Linked DNA regions of Homo sapiens. The protein of the gene in region 3 purifies or fractionates together with the protein of the main gene of each other region. This does not show direct contact. Each region holds a gene or a part of one and is shown on either strand. Other genes may lie near its edges. The genes, in order: TSC22D3, SUFU, UBE3D, PPM1A, CPSF4 and BORA.

The links.
Region 1: the proteins of UBE3D (region 3) and TSC22D3 purify together in Homo sapiens (affinity purification with mass spectrometry; one large-scale study listed by BioGRID and IntAct). This does not show direct contact.
Region 2: the proteins of UBE3D (region 3) and SUFU purify together in Homo sapiens (affinity purification with mass spectrometry; 2 studies listed by BioGRID and IntAct, with this or other methods). This does not show direct contact.
Region 4: the proteins of UBE3D (region 3) and PPM1A purify together in Homo sapiens (affinity purification with mass spectrometry; 2 studies listed by BioGRID and IntAct, with this or other methods). This does not show direct contact.
Region 5: the proteins of UBE3D (region 3) and CPSF4 purify together in Homo sapiens (affinity purification with mass spectrometry, with the first as the bait; one large-scale study listed by BioGRID). This does not show direct contact.
Region 6: the proteins of UBE3D (region 3) and BORA purify together in Homo sapiens (affinity purification with mass spectrometry; 2 studies listed by BioGRID and IntAct, with this or other methods). This does not show direct contact.

Annotation. Positions count from the first base shown.
Region 1 is NC_000023.11:107,769,281-107,772,788, forward strand, and holds part of TSC22D3 (TSC22 domain family protein 3), read right to left. Parts: intron 1-3,508. UniProt on the Homo sapiens protein: Protects T-cells from IL2 deprivation-induced apoptosis through the inhibition of FOXO3A transcriptional activity that leads to the down-regulation of the pro-apoptotic factor BCL2L11.
Region 2 is NC_000010.11:102,590,969-102,594,476, forward strand, and holds part of SUFU (suppressor of fused homolog), read left to right. Parts: intron 1-1,613; coding exon 1,614-1,756; intron 1,757-2,667; coding exon 2,668-2,753; intron 2,754-3,024; coding exon 3,025-3,097; intron 3,098-3,508. UniProt on the Homo sapiens protein: Negative regulator in the hedgehog/smoothened signaling pathway. Down-regulates GLI1-mediated transactivation of target genes. Down-regulates GLI2-mediated transactivation of target genes. Part of a corepressor complex that acts on DNA-bound GLI1.
Region 3 is NC_000006.12:82,891,889-82,894,848, reverse strand, and holds the end of UBE3D (E3 ubiquitin-protein ligase E3D), read left to right. Parts: intron 1-767; coding exon of another isoform or gene 768-885; exon of another isoform or gene 886-1,806; coding exon 1,807-1,827; coding exon of another isoform or gene 1,828-1,946; 3' UTR 1,947-2,459; downstream 2,460-2,960. UniProt on the Homo sapiens protein: E3 ubiquitin-protein ligase which accepts ubiquitin from specific E2 ubiquitin-conjugating enzymes, and transfers it to substrates, generally promoting their degradation by the proteasome.
Region 4 is NC_000014.9:60,283,714-60,287,221, forward strand, and holds part of PPM1A (protein phosphatase 1A), read left to right. Parts: intron 1-1,910; coding exon 1,911-2,028; coding exon of another isoform or gene 2,029-2,051; exon of another isoform or gene 2,052-3,508. UniProt on the Homo sapiens protein: Enzyme with a broad specificity. Negatively regulates TGF-beta signaling through dephosphorylating SMAD2 and SMAD3, resulting in their dissociation from SMAD4, nuclear export of the SMADs and termination of the TGF-beta-mediated signaling.
Region 5 is NC_000007.14:99,448,938-99,452,445, reverse strand, and holds part of CPSF4 (cleavage and polyadenylation specificity factor subunit 4), read right to left. Parts: intron 2,329-3,508; coding exon of another isoform or gene 2,183-2,328; exon of another isoform or gene 2,177-2,182; intron 2,171-2,176; coding exon 2,075-2,170; intron 1,745-2,074; coding exon 1,651-1,744; intron 94-1,650; coding exon of another isoform or gene 79-93; coding exon 6-78; intron 1-5. UniProt on the Homo sapiens protein: Component of the cleavage and polyadenylation specificity factor (CPSF) complex that play a key role in pre-mRNA 3'-end formation, recognizing the AAUAAA signal sequence and interacting with poly(A) polymerase and other factors to bring about cleavage and poly(A) addition.
Region 6 is NC_000013.11:72,741,423-72,744,930, reverse strand, and holds part of BORA (protein aurora borealis), read right to left. Parts: intron 1,395-3,508; coding exon 1,329-1,394; intron 427-1,328; coding exon 370-426; intron 1-369. UniProt on the Homo sapiens protein: Required for the activation of AURKA at the onset of mitosis.

The DNA.
Region 1 (3,508 bases), on a different chromosome or scaffold from region 3:
GTATATCCATACAATGGAATTTTATTCAGCCATAAAAAGAATGAAGTACTGATATGTGCTACAACATGGATGAACTTTAAAACATGTTGAGTGAAAGAAATCAGACACAAAATATTGTATGATTCAATTTATATGAAATATCTAAATAGGCAAATCCATAGAGACAGAAAGTAGAATAGAGGTTACCAGGGGGTAGTGGGAGGGGAAAATAGGGAAACGGTGAGTTATTCTTTAATGGGTACAGAGTTTTTGTTTGGGATGATGACAAAATTTTGGGAATGATAATGGTTGCACAACATTGTTAATATACCTAATGCTACTGAATCGTACACTTAGAAATGGTTAAAATGGCAAATTTTATATCTATTTTACCACTATATATATATATGTACTATGTACAATATATGCATATAATACATCTCTCTCTTTCTCTTTCACACACACACACACACACACACACACACACTAGTAGATGTGGGGTAGGGCACCAGGCTCACTCATTGGTGAAAGGACCGGCCCCCACCTACTAGTCTCCTTGCACATGTGATTCACATCTGTGCCTCAGCAAAAACACAGTTTCTTACCAGTCTGAGTTCTCATGAAGTATCCAAACCATGAATGTTAAGTTTGCAAATGCATTTGTGCTTTTAATGGAGAAGGTCCCTTAATCCAAGAATGCCTATTCTTTGTCAGACCACTAGGCACTCAGGAAATAGTTATTTTAAATTACTTTGGGCTATGAAAGGACTTTTGAAGCTTGATACCAAAAGCAAAAATCACAAAGGCAAAGAATGACAGGCTTAACCACACAGAAACCCAAAACCGCTCTACAGCGAGTAACTCCATCCTCAAAATCAAATGGTAAATTAGTTGACAATGCGTTGCAATCTCTAATACAGGGTTTCTCACAGTGTGGTCTACATACCAGCGGTGCTCTGGGAGAGGAATTTTAGATGGTACATGGACAGAGAACTGAATCTTAAATAGTATGAACTTAGGCACTGCAGCAGGCAGCCACTCAAATCATGCCGTGTGAGTGGCCACCACCTCAGAAGCCAGGTCCAGGAATATACATTATGAAATTACTTGTTCTGAGACTCACTTAGAGAAGCACAAATAATTTTTTGCACAAATTTTTCTTGAAAACCTGATCTCTGAATCTATATCCTTCCCCTTTGTTACTATATTAATAGGGGATATTAAATGAATTAGCACACATAAAGCAATTAGAAATGTTTGCTATTTTTATCATTTTCTGAGCATTTATATATGGGAACCAGTTGGGGCCAGGTCAGAAGCTTAAAGGTAGAATCCTAGGGTTTTTAGAGCTGGAAGGGAAATCGGATTCAGAGTATTTCAGACCACACTAGCCAGGTACGCTCTGGGGTCAAAGGTAGAATAGAGCTGATTAAGAGGTTTTGGGTAAAATCTTAGAAAAAAATTTGAGGTTACAGCAACAGCAATCACAACGAATACTGTCAAAGCTCCTGTTACAGGTTGTTATACCTTACAGGTCAGAAAAATTAAGGAAGGCTCTTCAAATGTCAACTTGGGAAGCTTTTTCATATGCTACATTTAAATTGGAAACTTCTGCTGTTTGCCCAGAATATTCTATCTCCCTCCTAAGTTTTCCAGTATTAGAAGCATATTCAAATGACAAGGGGGAAGTCCCCTAACAACAGGGTGACCAACCATCCCAGTTTCCCTAGGACTGTTCCAGTTTGAGCACAGGCAGTCCTATGTCACAGGACTGGGATGGTTGGTTTCCCTACCTAATAAGGACATTTTGACCATTTGGAAAGGTTCTGAGCTCACATTTACCTCTGCTTCATAGACAATTCTTAAGTGTTACAAGAATTTCTTTAGCATTAGTTTAGTTACTGAGTGTTCTTAACAATTCTTTCTTCATAGACAATTCAGGCTCTGCTCTTCATTGTGAGGCATTGGGCAAGATACTTAATTTTTTCCAAGCCTCAATTTCCTTCTTTATAAAATGAAAATGGATGATAATAGTACCCATTTGGTCGGGCGCAGTGGCTCATGCCTGTAATCCCAGCACCTTGGGAGGCCGAGGCTGGTGGATCATTTGAGATCAGGAGATCGAGACCAGCCTGACTAATATGGTGAAACCCCATCTCTACGAAAAATACAAAAATTAGCCGAGTGTGGTGGCGTGCGCCTGTAGTCCCAGCTACTGAGGAGGCTGAGACAGGGGAATTGCTTGAACCCAGGAGGTGGAGACTGCAGTGAGCTGAGATCGTGCCACTGCACTCCAGCCTGGGCGACAGAACAAGACTCCGTCTCAAAATAAATAAATAAATAAACAAATAAATAAATAAATCCATTCCAAAGAGTTGATGTAAATATTAAATTAGATTATGCAGGTACATTGTGAATGTTCAAGAAGTGTTAGTTATTAATCTGTTATGGTTATTAGTTACATAATACAAGATTGAAAGGATGGTGTTTAAAATACACTTCTTCCCCAACCCAATTGTTTACAGGTACCATTTACATACCAACAGGCTGCATGCCCATTCTCACTGATTCGTATGTATATACACAGCACTATCAGGACTTCCATCAGGCTATGAGAGTTACTGCATGTGGTTAAAACGGAAGGAAAACAACTTTTAAACATTAATAAGGATTTTCTAGCACAGTATAAAGTTGTAAAATCTTTACAAGGGACCACGTCAATATTTAAGTAGTCATCCAACTGAAGAAACCTTTATTGAATATTGGCTGTATAACTAAAAGCCAAGGGAAAACCAAGCAAGTAAAACACAGCCCTACCCTCAAATTGCTTATACTCTTGTGTTCCAAGGAAACCAAGAACGAAGCTGGGAGCCAGGGACAGGTCAAAGCAGACAAACCAGATGTAAATCAAGAATGTGCCCTGCTCTTCTTCCTAAAAATATAGGAGCCCTCTTGGCAAAGGAATGGACTGCAGGAGGAGGGGTGGGAGACTAGCTTCTCCAGCAGGAGAGGCCTTGAAAGTTGACAAAGGAAAAAAGCACCCAACAGGAACCTGAAATGTCAAATCATTAAATTGAATAGAAGTAAAAACGATGGCTGAAGTATGATGATAGAAACCCAGGGAATTTAATGAAGTAACAAGGGATATGTTCACTTAGGAGAAGGCTGTCTACCCCAGATATTGGAGAAGCCCCATGACCAGCAATAATGGTCTTCTAGTTTGCTAATGAGCATGTCATACTGGGCAAAACCTAAACCGAATTCAGAATCCCCAGTCTCTAAGGTCCCAATTGTCAAGGAAAACAAGAGGGGATCAGTGGCTCATGCCTGTGATCCTGGCACTTTGGGAGGCTGAGGTGGGCAGGTCGCTTAAGCCCAGGAGTTTGAGACCAGCCTGCACAACATGGCAAGATCCCGTCCCTATAAAAAAAAAATACAAAAATTAGCTGGGCATGGTGGTGTGTGCCTGTAGTCCCAGCTACTTGGGAGGCTGAAGTGGGAGGATCGATGGAGCCCAGGAGTTTGAGGC
Region 2 (3,508 bases), on a different chromosome or scaffold from region 3:
AGTCTTCCTTCTCCTGCCTGAATGAACACTATTGAGGTTAGGACCAATAACTGAAGCCGTATCTTGGATGGAAAAGGTGTGTCTGTGTGTGTATGTGTGTGTTCTGCCTTACCTTAAATATTGATAAAAAGTGAAGAAAGATACCTCAACTGTTGAGATTCCGAGATCGTGAATGACAGACCATAGTGAACTCTGGAACAGCCATTTAAAGAATGAGATAGCTCTCCATATGCTGAGAAGCAGTGATCTCTGCTGGGTGCTGTGGCTCATACTTGTAATCCCCGCACTTTGGGAGGCCGAGGAGGGCGGATCACGAGGTCAGGAGATCGAGGCCATCCTGGCTAACACCGTGAAATCCCACCTCTACTAAAAATACAAAAAATTAGCCAGGTGTGGTGGCACATGCCAGTAATCCCAGCTACTCAGGAGGCTGAGGCAGGAGAATCGCTTGAACCCAGGAGGCGGAGGTTGCAGTGAGCAGAGATCGCGCCACTGCACTGCAGCCTGGCAACAGAGCGAGACTCCATCTCAAAAAAAAAAAAAAAAGGTGATCTCGTGCTCACTTCAGCAGCACATATACTAAAATTGGAACGATACAGAGAAGATTAGTATGGCCCCTGCGCAAGGATGACATGCAAATTCGTGAAGTGTTCCATATTAAAAAAAAAAAGGTGCTGTCTAAGATATATAATTAAGTGAAATCTGCAGAATAGTGTGCTTCCATTTGTGTAAGGACAAAACATGGAAGGGAGCCTGTGGATGCATAGGCTGGACATATAGAGCACCTTGGCACCCACGATGAGAGTCAGAGCTGGTGAGAGACTTAGTACCCTGTGGGGTTGTTTTCCCTTGTGGTTATGTGGCCTTAAACAAAACTCTCTCTAAAGTAACGTACCTGCTTGAAGTGCAGTGGTGAGCCTGTGTGTGAGGAGGCTATGCCCTCATGGCAACAGCTACCCTTGGCAGAATCTGAACATCTCAGAGACATGGCCTGAGGATCCTCATGAGTTGTCTCTGCCACGGTGTGGGAGGCACTATTTAGACCTCCATTTACTTGAAGCCTAGTGTTCCTCAGGAATTCCTACATCTGCCTGTGGGAAAATGGTGATAGATTTCAAAGGCTCTCCAAGGTTCGATGTTTCCTTCTGAGTGCCATTTCAGCAACATAGGAATTTCGGTCTGTTTCTCCAAGGTGAAGGGCTTTCATTGCCCTGTTGCCTCTCTGTGGACTTCTGGCCAGGTGGCCCTACAGAAAAGCACCTTATTCTTTCTTGGCAGATCCAGTCATGGCTCCTGCCTCCCACCATGAGTCGGGATATTGGGGAAGCGAAGCAGATGCCAGAAGTCTTTCTGGTTTCCCAGGCCGAAGGAGCTTTCACACTAATAGCCTGTCCTTTTCAAGTCTGACAGAACTGGCAAGCAGGAACAATTTAGGTTTTTGGAAATATCCACAAACTCTTTGCTTCCATCCGGAGTGAATGCTTCTCTTCCTTCACAGGGGCTACCCTAAGAGGCTGGGAAGCCTCCCAGCCTGGGCTAGTGAGATCCCAGCCCAGATTCCAGGCCTGGATCTGGGGCCTTGAACAATGAGGATCCTTGTATCTCTCCCACAGAGAACACCTTCTGCAGTGGGGACCATGTGTCCTGGCACAGCCCTTTGGATAACAGTGAGTCAAGAATTCAGCACATGCTGCTGACAGAGGACCCACAGATGCAGCCCGTGCAGACACCCTTTGGGGTAGTTACCTTCCTCCAGGTGAGGCACAGGTTGGACGCTGGCTCAAGCCTTCCTGTGGGAAGGGTCCTGGGAGGACAAGGAGGCTTGAGGAGGGGGAGTGAAGGGAGTGGGAGGTTTCCTTTGGCCTCGTCCTGATTTCTGTTTCCTCTGATGGTTTGTCAGGTAGATTCAGATGGTCTGATTTAACCTGCTGAGATGGGAGAGGGGAGAAAGGGAAGGGGGCATTTGGTTGGGAGAGAATGGCTGTAGCTGAGAGGGAGTAATGGGGTGGCGGGTATTCTTTGAACAGTGAAGACCCAGTCTCAGGAACAGGACTTTCCAGCGGGAAGCCAGCTCTGGGTCGTCCTTGCTCTTTGCCAGAAGCTGTGGGAACCTGCCCAGCTTTGACCAGTGCTTGTTTTTGGTCACGAAGTCTATGTGAAGGTTCCACTGATTCCCTTGATATTTACACAAAGGCCTATCCCCTAATAAGGAAGGGAGGAGTTTCTCTGCAGGCTGCTATGACCTATTGGTGGTGGTTCCAAGCCTGATAGGTCTCAAAGTCTCTTGTTTACATTCCCCATGATACCAGACTGGGTAGGAATGGCTCCCTGAACCTCCCCTACTTCCAGAGACATGGCCTGAGGACACATCTTGAGTTGCTCAGGCCTTGGTTTTCTCCTTTGTAGCTAAGAGCTAGACTTGGTGTCATCCAGACACAGCAAGGGCAAGGGTCAGGCCTCAGGGCCCACATGTGGACCCAGCCATTTCCCAGCCAGGCAGCCACTCCCTCCTAAGGGAATCATCCAATCTTGGCTGCACCAGCTCCTGAGCACAGATCCTGCCTGTGGTCTCCCAACTGGAGGTGACTCAGAGAGCCTGGGTAGCTGACCTTCTTGGGGTGGGGGGTGGCCATTAACACACAATGGGCTTTCTATCCTGGGCCTCAGATCGTTGGTGTCTGCACTGAAGAGCTACACTCAGCCCAGCAGTGGAACGGGCAGGGCATCCTGGAGCTGCTGCGGACAGTGCCTATGTGAGTACCCATGCAAGGTGGGAGCGCGGCTCCCTGGGCCTGGGGGTGGGAGTCCCTCCACTACCCTCCATGTGGGGCTCCCTCTTGCGTTGTTATTTCAGACCCTGGTTTTTCACATCAGGGCTTCCTGACGACTCACTCCCTGACAGTCCCTGACCACGAACTATTCCCCTGTGTCCTAGGCCTGGGGCAGCAAACAGGGCAGGCTGTAGGCCCAGCCCATCAGCCCCAGACCCTCAGTTACCATTGTATCCCCTTTCCTTGTCCACAGTGCTGGCGGCCCCTGGCTGATAACTGACATGCGGAGGGGAGAGACCATATTTGAGATCGATCCACACCTGCAAGTATGTCTTGAGTGAGGAAAACCTTTCTAGCACCCTGTGCCTAGGCCTCTTCCAAATAACACTGGCTTTCATCCTGGGAAAACAGAGGACCTTTATGTGTGAGTGAGTAGAAATATGGCATCACTTGGAACTTGTCCCCTGAATTCTGCAGAGCACGTAGGGAGCAGAGGTTTCAGCCCAGGAAAGCTAGTCCTCAGACATATGTATTTTGGCATTTTAAAAGGATATTTTTATTGTATGTAAATTATATATTGGCTTAAAAAATTAGATTGCCAGCAATAAAAGATAAGTGTAGTGGATATTGCTTGCTTGCCCAGTATTCATTCTCCTGCCTCCCAGACTTTCTTTTAGGGAGCCACCACGGCCACCACCGCCCTGTACCAGACAGTAGTGTAGGTGATACTGACTCCA
Region 3 (2,960 bases):
TCCTGTCCCTGTAAACTGTCTATGTAGAAGCAGAATGTCGCCTGCCAGGGATGCTGCCCACAGTGAGCCCTAAGTCAGACTCAATGACTTCTGGTCTTCCTTCCTCTGTCTATTATAACAGGCTCTACTGGCCTCTCTTCTCATCTGGTATATTCACAGGCTTCTAATATCTCTTGTCAGCTGAGAGACAGGGGAAACACATGGATTTTCCTAATCATTATTATTAAGTTTTGAAGGGAAGGTGAGGGTTAAAGACAGAGGGAGTTGGCGGCTCTACAGAAATGCAGGTTTTATGTGCAGCACAAGACCTGCAGAGGTGGGGGACCAGTTAATGCCAGCCAGAGCCCACCGCTGCTTACAGGCTGGGGTACTTATAGGTATGGGTGGGAGGGGTCTGGGCAGTATGGCTTACCGCCCGGCAGGATATTGATAAGATGTTCCTATGATCAGGCGGTTTGGCCCTTTTTCCAGTGGGATGTCATAGGATGTTCCTTGGGCCTTTGTCCAGCAAGATATGATAGCAATGTTCCTTCAGTTGGGCCTTTGCCTGGCAGGGTATGATAAGAAAGTCAGGTGGTTGGGCAGGATGTTTCTCATGGTCCGAACCCCCATGGAACGTTTCACTTTGACCTGGGACTATGAAATGGTTGGGGGGGTGGGGGCGAGGCTTACAAAATGGTGCAGCTTGAACTAACAATGATCTCATTTGAGCTTCACAGTAAGCTCTTGAGGTTTGCATCAATTGTCCATGTTTACATTTTGTTTAGGAATCAACCTTTCCTCTTTGCTGCTCCTTCCAATTTGGTGTTCTCTTGATAGAGAAACTCAGCAGGAAGTTGATATGGAAACTCAGCAGGTGCCTTTCTCACCAGCACCGTATGAAGGGTAACATCCTTCTGAATTACTCAGCATAAAGCAGATGCTTTCTGCCCTGTGTGACCCTCCCTTTACCTTTTCTTTTAACAGAATAGTTAAATACACACCTCTTTTTACTGCATTCGGGGACTTAAGGACAAAATTTCCTGATGCAATTGACAGATGTCCCATACTTCCCCAAGAGTAGAATGTTTTTACTTCTGTTGCTCACGCCTAATACGAGCTTCCCAAGCCTCCCATACTTCACGATCTATCTCTGCTCTATACTTGACTCTCTTCCTCATATTGGCACAGTTCCCAATTTATTGTCACCCCTGAACTAAACCTTTCTAAACATTTATGATTGACTTTGTTAAGTTTGTTTCTGTTTTCAAAACTATTGGGAAATTAGATGCATTTGATCTAGGCCTCATTACATAGTCTGAAAATAGTTTGTTCGTAAGACTGTGTGAATTAATTTTTTTTAACTCTAGGTTTTAAGATGAATTGCTGCTGACCAACCAATATAAGTGAAAGTATCACAATGACCTAGGAGAGACTGGTATAATTACCTATAGGGATGAGGACCCAGAATCGCCTAGGAATGAGACTCAGAATTCTAAATATGGAAGGTCCAAAACAATAGTTGTGAATCGATGGAAATGAGGACTGGATTACTTCGTAGCAATATAACTTTAGTTTCAATTAAAACTCTATTTTTCTCCTTTAAAATGCGTGTGAATCATCTTAATTACTATATGGTTCATTAAAAAAAGACTAATTGGCTCCTGCTGTAAAATAAAATGTCTAGATCCACTAAGAGTCATTTTTCTGTTTAAACAAGCATATGATCTTATTGACCAGACTTAACCTGATTCTGATTTGATGTACATGCAGCCATTTTGTCATATTATAGAAGTAAAGCATTGTGGGTTTTTCTTCCTTCTCCAGGTGGCCTTTTTGAAGATGTAACTATTAGAGCTGGGCATTCTCCTCCCCCGGCAGACAGCTCTCAAGCAGGAGCACACCGAGGCCAGCAGTCAGCTCAGGAGGCATCAATTACAAAGACAAGAACCAGAGCTATGGGATAAGAGCATTGCATTGAAGTTTTAAGTTTACTTGTTTGCATGTATTCTCTAAGAGAAGAGTTAACTTTAGATCTTTGAAAACCCAGGACTGTGAAGAAAGTCATAGTAGCAGGTTGAGGCAAGTGTAGAAGTTACATCTCTATTTCCCACAGAGAGGAATATTCACATATGTGCAGTGTCAGCACCACCTGGAAGGTTATTACCTAATGGAGATCCATCTGTCCTGTGTGGAATCCAGTGAGGAATTTTATTGGTGGAACTGAATGTTAACTGCTGTAAATCCTAGGAAATAAACTTTTAAAGAGTTTCTCAGGATGATTTAAAACAAATTTTAAAAAAGAAAAGTAGAAAACATTTTATACTTTATTCAGAGGAGATGCTCAATAGATGTTTGTTGAATGAATGATTATCAAATTAAAGGATTTCCTATTTATGCAAATCTGCATGTTTCTTTTGTTATTTCCTTTACCATACATTATTGCAAATTAATAAATATACCTCACTAGCATCCCGTTACAGAGTTGTTCTATTCTTTGTGTACCAGCACAAGCGGTGAGGAAACCTTTCAGTGAGAAGGATAGAGCTACAGGGAATCCCACAGAGTACACGCTAGCTCCTAATTTCACAAGGAACGTTTGAGACTTGCCTAGAATCACACAGCTAGGATCAAAGCTGGGACTGGAGCCAGGCATGTCCATCTCCTCTGCCCAAGATCTGATCCATCTCTCTCTGACATCCTCCTTTCCTACTCCAGGATCAGGAGGACAGTCTGTGGATTTGCAAATATCCTTGCTGCTCAATTGGCATTAATCTCCACAGACCACCTGATATATCTTGCCTCAAAAACCCTGAGTTTTCTATCCGCAAATTTTCTAACACTTTTTTTTTTTTGAGATGGAATTTAGCTCTCGTTGCCCAGCTGGAGATCTCGGCTCACTGCAGGCTCCGCCTCTGGGGTTCAAGCGATTTGCCTGCCGCAGGCTCCCAAGTAGTTGGGATTACAGGCACCCACCATCA
Region 4 (3,508 bases), on a different chromosome or scaffold from region 3:
ATTACCATCTCTGCAAGAGTTATAAGCTGAATGTTTAGTCTTACTACTTGAGCTTTGTAATAATGTGGAAGATTATCAAAGGTAAAAAGATTTTATCAGAGTGCATGTTTTGAAAGAAAGAGGGTGGGGAGGGTTAGGCCTCAGTGTCTATAAATGAAAAGCATTTTAGAGTTTTAATATTTGACCATGTGATATCTCAGTACATTTATGATATCCTAATCCTTTGAAACTAAGGTTTAATGGTCTGTAGCACTTGAAAGAGGAATGTAGTGATCATTAGACGTGATGTAATAGAAATAGCCTTGTACATGGAGTCAGAAGAACTTGCTCTGAGACTGTGTATGGTTTTAGGTAAGCTATTTAAACTCTAATCAGTTTTTTTCATCATAAAAAGGATAAGACATTATTATCTTGTCTCATGGCGTTGTCAGGAGGATCAAATGGGATAATATACACAGGTGAGCTAGCTCAGCCCCTTTATTTTACAGATGAGGAAGCTGAAGCCAGAGAAGGTTCTACAAACTTAAGAGTCAGACAGACCTGAGACCAAGGCTTACCTCTATTAGTTTTGTACTCTACATTCCTGAACGAATTGTTCAACCTCTCTCAGCTTTAAAATGGAGATAATAGTATCTTATAAGACTGTTGCCGGGCGCGGTGGCTCACGCCTGTAATCCCAGCACTTTGGGAGGCCGAGGTGGGCGGATCACGAGGTCAGGAGATCGAGACCATCCTGGCTAACACAGTGAAACCCCGTCTCTACTAAAAAACACAAAAAATTAGCCGGGTGTGGTGGCGGGCGCCTGTAGTCCCAGCTACGCGGGAGGCTGAGGCAGGAGAATGGCGTGAACCCGGGAGGCGGAGCTTGCAGTGAGCCGAGATCGCGCCACTGCACTCCAGCCTGGGCGACAGAGCGAGACTCCGTCTCAAAAAAAAAAAAAAAGACTGTTGAGGAATTAATGAGCGTATGTATATATATATATATGTGTGTGTGTATATATATATATACATATATATATATATAATGCCTAGTTTAGCATATAATACATGCTACACCCTTTCCTACAGATATTATAAATGACGTGTACAGGGTTTTATACATTGCTAACAGCATTAAGACTAGAAAATCAAGGCCCTTGACTTGGGTTCAGTGTTCTTTCTGCCACACTCTGTTCTGTTTTGTCAATAATGCTTATTAACTTATTCTTTGATGTTTTTTTAAACAAATGTTGACTTTTTAAAATTCTTCTGAGGGTATATATTTGATACTCAAATATTTAATTATAGCATTTGAATACTTAGATGTCTTTAAAAATGAATGTAGTTCCTAAAAGTTGTCAGTTTTTAAAATTAATACAAGTTAAAAGCTGGTTTATAAACCTTAGGTAGTTTTACCTCTTATTTCATATTTCTACTTATGAAGCGAATGTATTAGCCCCACAATTTATAATTTATTTTAAAGGTAATTTTATCAGGTACATATAACTACAGGTCAAATCCTATTGTAAACAATGCCACTAAAATTTTCTGTCATGTTGTATGGAAGGAGTGTGTGTACACATGTATATTTGTATTAGGTATCACTTCAAATTAAGTCACCAGTAAATGTTTAGAAATAGTATTGTTTTATAGAATTATAAAAAATTATTATTACAGTGAGATTAACCTGTAATGTTTCTCTCCTGTCTTTTGGAGTATTGGTTATACTGTATTCTCTCTATACTGTTCGGGGGAGGGGGAGTCATTGCACACACACACGCACGCATGCGTGCACATATGTATTTTTTTCTCCCTGAAAGTAACATTTTCACTAGAACAAGTATAACTGTAATTGGCACAGCTGTAAAGGTTCTCAAGGCTTTGAAGAGCAAAAAGAAAACTAAAATATTCTCAAATTTTTTTCTTCCCAGGGAAGTCGAGACAACATGAGTGTGATTTTGATCTGTTTTCCAAATGCACCCAAAGTATCGCCAGAAGCAGTGAAGAAGGAGGCAGAGTTGGACAAGTACCTGGAATGCAGAGTAGAAGGTGGATCATTTAACAAAAAATAAGTAGCTTTATTAAAGAAAAATCTTCAACACAATCAAACTTTAACATTTTAGCTTTTAGATTTTTATGTGTCTTTGACAGCTAGTGTCTAGTGTATGAAAGTGGAAAAGGACATTTCTGTAGTAGCTGTTAAGATGTATGCAGTTGTCCTATCACAGTTATATTAGAAATAACAACTAGTGTGGAAAGTAACCCACATTCTGTTCAGGATACTTTTGTTTTAAAAGGCTAAAATGTTTGTGTGCTTTAAAATTCTTAATGAATTCACTGGCATGAGTAATTTTATGCCGGGAAAATCTGATTTGTGGTCTATTTAATTACAAAGAGATTGTGATGGTGATAATTTGAATACCATCTTTCTATGAAAAGCTGTGTATATTAATTTTAATCTCTAGGGCCTTTTTTCAATAACTTGAAAATCACAGCCTCATCATTAGCAACTTTATATACACAGCTTTAAAAAATTTGCTTTAAACTGTTTCAGAGCTTCTTCCCTAAGCCATAAACTGTCTCACCTAAACAAGATAGACCTCAATAAAAGACATAATATTTCTCCACCTGGCAGAAAAGTAACTGCCAAGTAAGATTAAGAAATAAGTTGAGCATTTCTGGAGTATATTTCTCATAATTCTGCAGAGACTTCCAGTTTATTGCATATATGCAGTAAAGTGTATATATTATGCAGTTTCTCTAAGTGGAAAAACTTGACATGACTTTAATAGTGTTAAAACATGAAAATGCTGGTGAGCTGAGGTAGAAAAAAAACAAGAAAAAAATTTTAAAAATAGCGTTAAAATGCATTTTAGGCTCCTAATGTCGTTAATTTGCACGTTAAAGACCTCTAATCGCATGCAAGCATTGACCTACCACACCTACATCCCACTGTGCCTGCATTATTGAAATTACTACTCACTTTAATTTTTTTTCCCCTTTTTACTGTTTGATACCAATCATAATCAGTCTGATACTAGAATCATGATTGGTTTTGTTCTTTAGTACTGTCTAGAGCTACTATTTTGTTTTTATTGCTGTCCGCCACTTGATAGTCATACATCTAGTATGTGTTTGTACTATTTAGTATTGCATTCATTGGACGTACTATTCAACGAATTTGTCTCCTTACTGTTACCAAGGGTCTTGGAATTTTTATATTTTAAATTAATCATTCAATATAAGTTATTTATAGGTATAGTACAATTTTAAAATATTTAGAATGCTACAATCATTGGTTCAAACTATTGATTCATGGGAAAATTTAAATTCATAAGAATAATATGTATAGGGATAAGTTGATATTTAATGTATTGGCACTTTAACTTGGGCAGACATGTTTTCTTATTGGTTTAAAGAAGTAATAAGTATTTTAATATTTTTACTATGAAATGGGATCCAATTTTAGAAATGAATTGCTACTTTTCTCTTTAGTGTGTACACTTTAAGTTTTAGATGGAATTATGAA
Region 5 (3,508 bases), on a different chromosome or scaffold from region 3:
GGTACCTTTGCTGGAGGCTGTGTCTGCTGCGGCAGTGGGGGCTGCTCGGTGGTTCCCATGGGCAGTTCAAATCGAGGGCTGGTCACCAGCAGCCAGAGGGGATGAGAACAAGAGAAGGAGTGGGGTCAGGGGATGAGAAGAGAAGCCAGGCCATGCTCTTAAATTCCAGCCCTAGGAAAATCACACTCAGCTGCCCCAGCACAAAGTGACTGACACAAGCTGCATGGATGGGGTGGTGGCTGGCACTCAGCTCTGCTCCTGGGAGGCCACAGGAGTGGCGGGGAGAACAGAACTGACTTGCCTGGGCTCAGACCCAACCCTGCCTACACCGAGCTGGGAGACTCATGGCCAGTGCTTCTCGGAAATGACAAAGGCTGTGCTGGTGCGTGCCTGCTGCGCCACAGGAGCTGTACACAGGGAAGCCCCCCTCCCCGCAGGGTCTTACTCTGGCGTCAGCCCCTCCTCCCATCACTTGGTGACGGTCTGCCCCTGAGCCACCTGCAGGTGCCTGCACTCTCATTCAGGGAGTGAGACCCAGTGACAGCACCGGCCACTTCCCTGCAGTGAGAAGCAGGGACCAGGGTTCCCACAGACCTGGAGACTGTTATCCTGCTGTAGGTTCAGCAGTGTGGGCGAGGCAGCCGGGAGGAAGGGAGGCTTGTCTGTGGCCCCAGTGCCACCCCAGGCAGAAGCCCAGGTCCACAACCAAAGTGACAGATGGGCACTGGGCTCCAAGGACAAGAAAATGGAGCCACAAGAGGGGTGCTAACCCCACAGAGCAAGAATTAAAACCCGTCTTCGGAGGCTCACAGACTTGCTATTTATTTATTTTATTTATTTAGAGATGGAGTCTTGCTCTGTCACCCAGGCTGGAGTGCAGTGGCACGATGTTGGCTCACTGCAACTTCCACCTCCTGGGTTCAAGTGATTCTTTTGCCTCAGCCTCCCAAGTAGCTGGGACTACAGGCACGCGCCGCTACACCTGGCTAATTTTTGTATTTTTAGTAGAGACGGGGTTTCACCATATTGGCCAGGCTAGTCTCGAACTCCTGACCTCGTGATCCGCCTTCCTCTGCCTCCCAAAGTTATGGGATTACAGGCGTGAGCCACCACACCCAGCCCAGACTTGCCTTTGACCAGGTGCCACCACCTGCTACCATGTGCCCTTGGCCAGGGACTGAGCCCTGTGCCTCAGTGTGCTGCTGTGTGAAATGGGTGCGTTCTCTCCTACCCTCACTGTTAGACGACTACTTATTCTATGTGAAACCCCAAGCTCAGGGTTTCCTGAGCCTCCACATGGGAGGCTCTGAAATTCTTTCCTTTAGGGCACAGGTTCTTAACTGGAAGTCCCCAAATTCCCTAAATGATATGCAAGGCTACATGTTTGTCTGTATCCCACAGCTTCCATTACATTACCAGATGGCCCATGACCCAAGAAAGATCAGCTCCTGGTCTAGGCAGAGCCACCTGCGGGCTCAGGAAGCATTGGTGGCCATAAGCAGGGATTACTTCCCCATCTCCTGCCCCCACCCTTGGCCCTGGTACTGACATCACCCAGTGACCAAGGCCCAGTTGGCCCAGGGAAGATACGGAGGGCAGCAGGGCCTGGGCCGGGAGCTGGGGTAGAGGGCGGAGCAGCTGGCTACTCACTGCATGAATTTACACGAGGGCCCCTCCGGGCAGAATCCCACGAGGTAATTCACACAGATGACTCTCCGTGTGTGCCGGTGCCTGCAGAGGGGACCTGCAGAGCCAAGTGTCCGGTCACTTAGATGTCCCCTCTACCAGTTAGAGAGCTGGAGCATGGTTTCAAATGCTGGCTGTCCCCCATTCATGGGAGACGGGGCAGGGACCTCACCTCCCAACACTGGCCTCCTTATCAAAAAAGCGGGTGGACCACCACCCACCCAGCATTCTTGGGAGAGGCAAGGGAGATGAGGAGTGTGAGAAAGCCGCTAGCTGCAGAATGTCAGGTTTTGCTGGGACAGGTAGACCAGCTGGCAGCCTCCAGGGTCGTGGGCAGAGAAGGGAGGACTGGCTTCTTGCCCGGGGCCCAGCCCACCCTGGCACCTACCGTGCTTGCAGAAGCCACGGTCATACCAAGGACAGTCCTTGATCTTGGACTCGGGGTCGATGTGCAGGAAGGGACATTCCTTGTTGCTGCACTCCCCTGCAGGGAAACTCAGACGTGAGACCACTGGGAAGGCCGGGGCCAGGCCCACCTTGGCTTCATCCAAGGAAAAGAGGTTCTGGTGTCCAGTTTTGGCCTGACGAGCCCTGAGAGCCAGGGAAGAGTGTTTCTGAGCCCCAGCTTCCTGTGCAGCGGAGCTGTGATGGAAATGCACCCATTGAGACCAGGAAGTTCCATTCTGATTGGCTCTTCACATCTAAGAGCTGGGACAAGGGTAGGGGAAGCACTTGTGGACCTGGCCCTCTCCAAAGCAGCGGACCCCAGGGACCACCAGCACCAAGAACCGCCTTCCTGAGTAGTTGCCCGCTTCCAGGCTCACCTTCTCCAATCCATGTTTACAACTGTGCTCAAAATCCAGAGGAAATGCAAACTCCTTCCCCAGGCCCCTCCGCAGGCTCAGCCTCTGCCACCCCCCAGCCACATGGGTCCCCCTGTACCAGGACCAGCCCCTTCTTAGTCTTCCGCTTCCAGCTCAGGAATCCCCTCATCCTTGACCACTCAGCCTAGAGAAGGTTCTGGTCACGGTTTCCTTCCTTCAAAGCACTTGTCACAAGCAATTTCTTCTCTGTTCGTCTCATGGCCTATCAGCTACCTCTTTCCCTGGACCACAAGAGTGAAGGCTTCACAGGGCAAGGACCTCTTCACCATTGTCCCTCCAGTGCCTGGAAAGGGGGCCCTCAACCCAATGTCTGTGGTGCAGGTGACAGAAGCTGCAGACAGTGCGTCCTGCACCAGGGCTGTCAGCAAGGAAGGAGCGACCCTCAGGCCACTTGTATAGCGGTGCCTTAAGAGCCTGCCCAGGAGAGCCAGCTGCTGCCTCTGGGGACAGATGGGAGGCCACTGCCCCATCCCAGTGCTGCCCCAGTGCTGCTATGGGCAAGGCATCGGGGGGAACATGCTACATTGCACAATGACAGGGACAGCACTTGGGGAGCTGGGAAGCTTGGGTCCTATTTCTTCTCAGCTTATGCCACCTCCACAAAACAAGCCACAGCTCTCATTGATAAGCCAGCAGGCCACGCCTGATGGGATGCTGAAATAATTAATGTCTCCTCCAACAGCAGTGCTTTGAAAGCATGAAGCATACCCTGCACTCCCTGGCTCCCTGCAGGATTCCAGCCTCCTGCCGGGCTCCCTGCACAGGACCAGAGCCAGCCTCACGCTGACCCACAGAGCTGCTTCCCGGGAAACCTGGAAGTGCAGACCTGAGCGGGGACCCTGGGGACTCCTTCCAGCAGGGAGCACATCTCTGCCAGACTCCGTGCCAGCCCCACTGACTCCACCCGGGCTCCCGCTTCTCCACGCAGGCCACTCAGG
Region 6 (3,508 bases), on a different chromosome or scaffold from region 3:
TTATACTTCTGTTACTCAACTTTTAAGAAGCCAGCATGCACTATGTTTGAATTTTTTCCCAAAAAGAGGGCAAAGTTTAATTGCATATTTGATGTTTTACATCTTAAATTATTCCTTAGTTTTTAAGTGCTACATTGTTAGTATAATATCAATAAAATGTTTATAGTTTCTGTCTATAGTAATAAAGTTCACTATGATAATAAGGCTAGTTCAAACCATGTTCAAGAAAAAGAGAAATTTCAGGGCAGTTTCCCCACTTCTTTAGAAAGAGGCACTGCCACATATTTCCCATGTTACCATTTACAAAAAGCCAGCCAAACAAAACCTTTGGTTCAAGTTATTAAAAGTTTAAACAAATACAGTATTTACCTAATATATTTTCTAAATTAAAATCCACAGGAAGAGACAGCAATGTCTGACAAGCAGCTGGAAACAAGCAAATAAATAAACAAATTCAAACATGGGATAAATCAATGAAAGTATACACTATACAATTCAGCATGTGCTGCCCAGTCAATCATCTCCCCGTGATGTTCCAGCCAAATGGAATTATTCATTTCTGCATTCTATCACATACCCTGCCACCTTTCTAGAAGTGGTTTCCCACACTCTCCGCAACTGGTGTAAACGTGTTAATAGTAAAAGTTAACTCCTGGCTCTGGTACTGGCACTTGAAAAGGAAGCCAGCCTATATCTGGGGGGAGATTTCTCACATTAACCAATTTTCAAAAGAATGCTTTCCAAGACCAGAAATCAATTCACATGCTTTGAACAAGAAAACAAAACACTAGTGCTATTTCTAAAACATGGCTGGATGCATCTGTTCTACTATACTTGTTTTTAAAGGTCAGCTCTCATATGGTTATTATGTAGCTCATTGAAAAAATCCAAACAGGCCAGGCTTGGTGGCTCATGCCTGTAATCCTAGCACTTTGGGGGGCCAAAGTGGGCAGATCGCTTGAGCCCAGGAGTTCGAGACCAGCCTGGGCAACATGGCGAAATGCTGTCTCTACAAAAAAATACAAAAATTAGCCAGGTGTGGTGGCGGGTGCCTGTAGTCCTAGCTACTGAGGAGGCTGCGGTGGGAGGATCACTGGAGCTCGGGAAGTCAACGGGAAGTCAAGGTTGCAATGAGCTCTTGATTGTGCCACTGCACTCCAGCCTGGGTGACAGAGTGTGACCCTGTCTCAAAAAAACAAAAATAAATTAAAAAAAAAAAAAGGAAACAATTTCAATTCCAGAGTAAAGTGTTACTACCTGAACTGGGTTTAGAATTCAATGTAGCTTAATATGGAACATCCTTCTTTTCAAATTGTGTTCATACTCACCATCGCTTTTCTCAGAATGAATGGTCAGCTTTTTTCCAACTGGAGAGTCACTATTTATGTTAGTGCCTGTAAGACATTTTAAGTGAAAAATCCTATGTTTTATACTCTTCATTTGCTTTAGCATTACTTTTTCCAAAGTAAAAAATTAAGAAAGTGGAAACTTATTTTGCAACATTAAAAAAAATCTGCATATATAAGTATATATTTTGGTATGTTTCTATTATTTTTTTACCTTTGAGGGAATACAAGGATAAAACTAAAGGATTACCACAGCAAATAAGGAGTCACCAAGCAATATTTTTTTTACATTTTTCTTTAAATAATTGTATACATTTATGGGGTACAATGTGATGTTTCAATATATGTATACACTATGACAAGAGCAAATCAAGCTAATTAACATATCCATTGCCTCAAATACTTTTCTTTGTGGTGGGAACATTTAAAATCCACTTTCAGCAATTTTGAACTATATGATACCTCATTATCAGCTATAGTTACCTGGCTGTGCAACAGATCACCAGAACTTATTCCTCCTGTCTAACTGAAACTTTGTACCCTTTGACCAACATCTCCCCCACCACCCCTCCTCCCTACCGTCTGGTAACCACCACTCTATTCTCTACTTCTAAGAGTCTGACTTTTTTAGATTCTACATATAAGTGAAATCATTCAGTATTTGTCTTTCTGTGGCTGGCTTTTTTCACTTAGCATAATGTCCTCTAGATTCATATATGTTGTCACAAATGACAAAATTTCCTCTTTTTTAAGGCTGAATAGTATTCCATTTTGTGTGTGTGTGTGTGTGTGTGTGTGTGTGTGTGTGTGTGTGTGTATATATATATATATCACATTTTAAAAAGTCCATTCATCTGTTGATGGACACTTAGGTTGACTCCATATCTTGGCTGTTGTGATTAACGATGCAGCAATAAATATGAGAGTGCAGGTATCTCTTTGAAATAGTAATTTTGGTTCCTTTGGATAAATACCCAGTAGTAGGACTGATGAATCCCAAAGTAATGTTTTTTTTTTAAGGAAATGATGATTACTCTTCATGACGTCAACCTTAAAAGGTTAGGGATACCTTTTAGCTACCCTCAATGTCCTCAACAGATTAAAATGCCAGATTATTTTGACAAAACCTGAAATTTGATCAATAAAACCATATAGTTTCTTTCACAAGAAGAGTTAAAAATATGGGTGCAAATTATTTTAACTCTAAAGTTTTATAAATTGAAAAATCACCAGATTAAAAAAACTCAAAAACCAAAACCATCTCAAAAAGACTAATATAAGTAAGATAAAAGGAAGAAAAAGCAAGGGGACCAAACAAACCCCCCCTCCCCCCAAAACCAGAAACAACTCAGGAATTCTAAAATAAAATGACAAAATAGAGTGTAGTAACCTAACAATTCTAAATTTTAAAATGGGTAAGTGGGTTGCTGAATAAATTAAATTTCCCTGTGAAATACTATCAAAACGGGTAAATAAAGAAAATTTTGGATGCAGATGACTTTGTCACTGCATGCAGAGTGACCTTCTATAAGGCAGATGTAATCAATACTCTCTCTGCCTAAAACCCTGCAATAGTCTTTAGGATAAAATCCAAACACCTCAATGGCTTACAAAGCCTTTCAAAACCATGTCTATTTCTCTAGCATGGTTGCCATCTAATTAAATATTATTTGAGTACCTAAAACAAACAAACAAGAAACAGGTATCTCTCTCATCTCTAGGTATTATCTTATGCTCTCTCCTCCCTGCCTTTTCTCCCCTGCATTCCAAGAGTCTAACTCAAATCTCAGCTTAAATTTTATCTTCTGCCAGCATGCCTTCCTTGCCTTCCTCAGACCAGAAAGACACCTACAGCAACATTATCACATCACTTTTCAACTCTATTCCAAGTGTTTTGGTTGCTTCCCCTAGAAGGGCTTAGACAAGTTTAAGACCACAATCAAATGAGGAAAAAAAAAAATCGATGGATTTGACTGCACCAAAATAAAAATTTCTATGCAACCCAGGATATCAAGAACAAAGAGTAACATACATATGACAGAATGGGAGATAACATTTGAAATGTTTAAGACCAATATAACCACAATATGTAAGGTATCTTAGAAATTAACAGGAAAAAAAAGGTTAGCAACTCCAATTGAAACATATCAATGAATTACAAA